Regions from separate parts of the Homo sapiens genome. Here region 1 is linked to region 2. A link means that fine-mapping ties the variant in region 2 to the plasma level of a protein whose gene starts in the linked region. Region 2 holds a variant in brackets. A gene starts in the other region. All regions are shown on their forward strands.

The links. PIP is the chance, under the fine-mapping model, that this variant and not a neighbour inherited with it causes the effect. Protein levels are from antibody-based Olink assays in UK Biobank. Linkage for the fine-mapping came from a reference panel and not from the study's own genotypes, which makes the PIPs less certain.
Region 1: it holds the start of GSR, and the variant in region 2 is fine-mapped to the plasma level of the GSR protein (UK Biobank, PIP above 0.99).

Annotation. Positions count from the first base shown.
Region 1 is chr8:30,725,134-30,728,018 of GRCh38, forward strand. It overlaps GSR (glutathione-disulfide reductase), which reads right to left and starts at 2,713. Exons shown (of 13, transcript NM_000637.5): 1 at 2,397-2,713. The coding sequence starts at 2,702. RefSeq lists an enhancer at 1,611-2,298 and silencers at 2,374-2,813, 2,884-2,885.
Region 2 is chr12:7,380,674-7,383,588 of GRCh38, forward strand. The region is part of intron 8 of CD163L1 (CD163 molecule like 1); the gene reads right to left. Among named protein-coding and RNA genes, the nearest start is that of CD163L1, 62 kb to the right of the region's middle. The variant AT/A (reference allele first, on the strand shown) is at 1,289.

The DNA.
Region 1 (2,885 bases), not on the chromosome of region 2:
ATCCCAGCACTTAAAATACAAAAAATGGGACAGGAGTGGTGGCTGATGCCTGTAATCCCAGCATTTTGGGAGGCCAAGGCAGGCCGACTGCTTAAGCACAGGCATAAGAGACCAGTTTGGGCAACATGGCAAAACCCTGTTTCTAAAAAACAATAAATAAAATAAAAACAGGCCAGGCGTGGTGGCTCACGCCTGTAATCCCAGCACTTTGGGAGGCTGAGGTGAGCGGATCACAAGGTCAGGAGTTCAAGACCAGCCTGGCTCTACTAAAAATACAAAAGTTAGCTGGGTGTAGTGGCACCTGTAATCTCAGCAATTTGGGAGGCCGAGGCAGGAGAGTTGCTTGAACCCAGGAGGCGGAGGTTGCAGTGAGCCGAGATTGCACCACTGCACTCCAGCCTGGGTGACAGAGCAAGACTCCATATCGAAAAAAAAATAGATAAATACATTTTAAAAATAAAAAATTAGCTGGGTGTGGTGGCTCATGCTTGTAATCCAAGCACTTTGGGAGGCCAAGGTGGGTGGATTACCAGAGGTCAGGAGTTTGAGACCAGCCTGGCCAACATGGCAAAACCCCATCTCTATTAAAAGTACAAAAACTAGCCGGGCATGGTGGCATGCACCTGCATTCCCAGCTACTCGAGAGGCTGAGACGGGAGAACTGCTTGAACCTGGGAGGCAGAGGTTGCAGTGAGCCCAGATTGCACCACTGTACTCCAGCCTGGGTGACAGAGTGAGACTCCCTCTCAAAAAAAAAAAAAAAAAAAGAATTCATAACAGGAAGGTAAAGTGGGTGAACCTCTGAAGCACATTATAACATAAGTAGAGAAAGAGGAAGACAGAGAAAATGTGGAGAGCAGAACAGAAGTGAGAAGTGATCAAGTACTCTCATGAGGTGTGGGAGGGGGGCACTTAGTGGCACCCCACAATCTGCCTTCTGGAGAGACAGATTTCTAACCTTCTGTCTGGACTATGGTGTCAAAGTGCAAGTTGATAATTAACAGAGATTTTTCCTTTCTCTTCATCTCCATGTTCATCTCCAAGGCACTGAACAATGAAGTCAACCTTTTCATAACTGTCCATTTTTAGTTTCATTCATTGCACAAGTGCTTATTGAGCAAGGGATTTTAAGGTGATAAGAGACACACAAACACAGAAGCCCATCCCTGTCCTTAAAGAGCTCCCAATTTGACATAATTTAAATATTCATCTCCAAAGGAATTTAGAGAACCTATCCCAAATCCCAGGTTCCTCTTGGATACAGCATTTTAATCGTCAACACCCAAATCTTGTGATAGAAAAGGGCGGGCACACCAATAACTTGGAAACAACATTTATTTTTAGAATGAGTGCAGTGGCTCAGGCTTGTAATCCCAGCACTTTGGGAGGCTGAGGCGGGAAGATCGGTTGAGTCCAAGAGGTTGAAATCAGCAAGGGCAACATAGCGAGACCCCCATCTCTACAAAAAATAATAATAATTAACTAGGCGTGGTGATTAGCCCCCTGTAGTTCCAGCTACTCAGGAGGCCAAGGTGAGAGGATCCCTTGAGCCCGGGAGTTCGAGGCTGCAGTGAGCTATGATGGCCACTGCACTCTAGCCTAGGTGACAGGGCAAGACCCTGTCTCAAAAAACAAACACAAACAAAAACCCTTATTTTCAAAAATTATGAATTTTGTAAATCTCAGGATTTACATCCCTCTGTTTTTAGTTTTGCAATCCACATAAAACCAAGACAAAACAAAAGCTCTGAGAACTCACCTACTCAAGGTCGCCTTGGCTGCAATTCAGATCACCCGAAAATCCCAAAGCCCAGGCTGCACTTCAGACCAATTAAGTCGGGAAACATCCCAAAGCCCAAGTGCACCTCAGACCAATTAAGTCGGGAATCCAGGCACCCTCAGGTGATTCGAATGTGTAGCCAAGGTTGACAACAACCGCTATAAATCATTCTGCCCTTGAAACGGGAGAACCAGGATCTACATTTTTCAAGAACCAGGATCTATGGCACCGTCACCCTCGTCCCTACACACAGGCCACCAGCAATGTTCCCAGATGCAGTTTTGTGTTTCACGCGGTCAAGAACAGAATCCAATCCTCTCCCACTTGGACAAGTGAGGATGGAGGAAGGTTAATCTAACCCGCCCCGGCCCTGGTCAATATCGCATCCGTGCGGAAGCAGACGCTGGCTCGGCTTTGCGGGCCGCAGAGAAGCCCCCGGACGCCTCTCTCTCCTCCACCTGCTGGGTTCCTGGCTTCGGAATGGGGAGTTGCGGGGGTGGAAAAGAGGAAAGCCCAGCGCCGGGGGACAGGATCGCCATAGGAACGAGCACAGGCTGTCCCCCGAAAGACCGAGACAAAGAGGCGCCCCCCGCCCGAACAAACCGGCGGTACTCACGCAAGTGCCACCCAGCTTGTGGCTCTCCACCACGGCGGCCCTGGCACCCAGCTCGGCCGCCCTGCGCGCGCTGGCCAGCCCGCCCGAGCCGCCCCCGATCACCAGGTAGTCATAGGAGGCCACGGCGCCAGCAGCGGGCGGCGGGCCCTGCGGCTGCGGCTCCTGCCTGCAGGCCATGGCACGGGAGAGGGCGCGCGTGAGGGCCGCGGGCTCGGGCAGAAGCAGCAGGAAGCCTCGGAAGGCGCGCGCCGCCCGCCGCCAGCTCGGTCCCGCGCCGGCGCTCAGGGCTCGGGGCAGCAGGGCCATGCACGCGGAAGTGGCGCGCCAAGTGGGGCGGGCGGCCCGGGGGCGGTCCCCGGGGTAGGGGGGCGCGGGCCCCGGGCAAGCGCAGCCTCACGGTGACTAAGCATGCGCCCGCCGCTAGGCAAGACCCAGGAGGATGCCCAGAGGCGGGGCCGCCTCCCAGTTCCCCGCCCCGGTGGCGGAGCC
Region 2 (2,915 bases):
TCAGTGTATACTGCTTGGGTGATGAGTGCATCAAAATCTCACAAATCAAAACTAAAGAACTTACTCATGTAACTATTACCATCTGTTCCCTAAAAACCTATGGAAATAAAAAACTTTTTAAAAAAGAGGAAACGAAGAATTAAATCAGAAATTAATTCTGAGCCTAATTGAAAGAGTCAGCTTTTGAAGGAAATTTTTAGCAGTATTGACATAAAATGAAATGAATCTCATTCTAGAAAGGTTACTTTATCTTTTTAGGGCAGTTTGGTAGCTTTGAGTGTGCTGTGGCATAGTCTGTGAAACACAAATAATATTGCCTACTAATTTGAGAATATATCTAATTATATAACAATGTAATACTTCTTTATCTAATTAAAAACTATAAATGGTATCAGCTTCTTTTCTATTGTTTTAGTTAAAAATAAAAATTCACATTATTAAATGTCTATGTGATATCATACTATTTTTCTACTTTATATACTAAATTATATTAATAGGTTTATTAACTGCCTAATGTTGACAGATCTGACATGTCAGAAAATCAACTCTGACTTTGACCAGATCAAACCTGACCAAGTTACTTCCTATTGGCCTTGAGAAGAAGAAAAATATAATTAACGTGGTCTAGAGGACCTGGAAAGTCTGTCCTTTCCTATCACTTCAGTCCCACTTCCTGCCACTTATAAAACAGCTGAATGAAATTTTACTACATTGGTTATTTTGATATAATCTTGTGTAGATATGAGATGATTCTCTAAATAAAACTCCCATTCAGCAGAAAAATAGAGTTGTAATGTATTTCCATTTTAAGCCTATTTGTTACTCTGTGTCTTTGGAGCTCAGTGACAGGGTTTGTGAAACATGAGTCAAGATCTGTTTGTAATTGGCAGGAGTTTCAAAACAATAATCATGTGAGGGTGGTAGATCAGTCTTAGCAACTTTACCATAAAAGTAAAAAGAAATTTTTTTAAATGGGGTTTATTTTAGATACTGACGTTTAGAGAGCTATAATTTTGTGTGTGGTGGTGGGGAGGGTGGGGAGAATAAACATATATATCTTGTAGGAATCTCTATCAAAATTGAGATTCCCTGAAAAGGTGTCTAGAAACAGATGAACTTTCTTCATTAAATGAACTACTCTAAATATAAGGGAAAAACATATTTCACTGCTTTGTAGCAACATATTCCACTCTGAGAGAGAGTCTTAGGTGGAAAAACAGTTGCTGTAGGTGATTCAGCATAAAAAGGTGACATCATATTGACTTTTAGGTTTTTCTGAATTAAAAAA[AT/A]ATATATTTATATGTAATTGTTTTATATACATAATTATATATTTATATATAATGGTTTTATATAGAATTGTTTATATATAATTGTTTTATATATATAATTATTTTAAATATATATATACACACATAGAGATATATATATAATTCTCAATATGTAAAACAATTATTACCAATAAGAAAGTCTGTAGTTTACAATACAGATACAAGGACAGAGAAGAAAGGTGTGGGTAGTTTCTATGGATTGGAGTTGGGTCCCGTGTTCAGGAATCCTCAACTCTCTTATTGAAAGACACATTGATATTCATGATTATGGAGAGAAGAACTTTCCCTTAAAAGAGAATAGCTCAAGGGGGAGGCTTCAAGACGGCTACTAGAGGCACCCAACACTCACCACCAAAAACGATCAAAACAGCAAGTAGATAATTTCACAACGAATAGTGTCTAAGATAGAACACTGGAATCCAGCAGGGAAGTGATAGGGAACAGATCCTTCTGAGGCACAGAGAGAGAAAGAAGTGAAGCAATTGTCTGGCTAGGATTGACTGGAAGCCTGGTATGGATCCCCACTGTAGAAAAAGAATAAATGAGAGATTCCTAGCAGTCCACATTCCCACTGTGGGCCCTTGCAATCCTAGCCATGGGAGAGCCCCTCAGCTTCTGTGGGCTCTGAGACTAGTACAGGGAGCTGCCTAGAGTTTGCACAATAGCGTTGTTCCAGAGGGGGAGTTTGTGCTGGGTCCTACATCCCAATCCCCAACCCCAAGACCCAGGTAACTCCAGCATGGCACCATTTTGAGAGTCCAGCTCCCACAAGATTGCATCCTGTCCTGGGCCCCAGTAAGCCCTACATCTCTACATGTCTAGAGCCCCACTGATAACCTCCCTTATCCATCTGGAGGGCTGCAGTGGTGCCATGCTGGCTGGACTGGCAGTGTGTCTAGGTCCCCAGCCATCTATTCCACACAGTGTCTGATGTACTGGGAAATGGGTAGTTCACAGAGGAGTGTTCCCCCATGATAAAGAGAGCTGAAGCATCTCCCCAGAGCCTGAGAGCCACCTGTCTGGGGTCACTATCACTGATAGCAACCCCACTTCCTCGCAGCAGCAGGGACACTGTGCACTTTCATGAGCCTTCAGTGAGCCTGAAAATGGCTTGCCAGGATGCCATACAAGGACCTACATGGAGGTTTGCCCCACCTGCTACCACCTAAGCATGCCACCCAAAGGTCTGGAAATTGCCCTATTCCACTCACCATAGTCTGTCCCTGTGTGCAACATCAGTAGCCTTGAGGACAGACCTGCACTGCTGGGTGCCACCACTACCTCCAGCACCCACCTACATGTGCCACCTGGGGGCCTGGAGAATTGCCTGCCCAGCACTGCTAGCACCAGTGTATACCGGCTGGGAACCTGACAGTTGGCCTGACACCACTACTGCTATTGGTGACACCAGTCATGTTACCTAGGGGCCTGAGAACTTTCCCACCTGCCTAACTCAATGCTGCCACTGCTGGTAGATAAGCAAGCCACCTGGAAGCCCAAGAATTGACCCACCTAGATCAACTCACATTGGTGCTTGCATATGCCACCTAGGGTCCCATGGACAGTCATGGTCAGCCTGCTGCTACC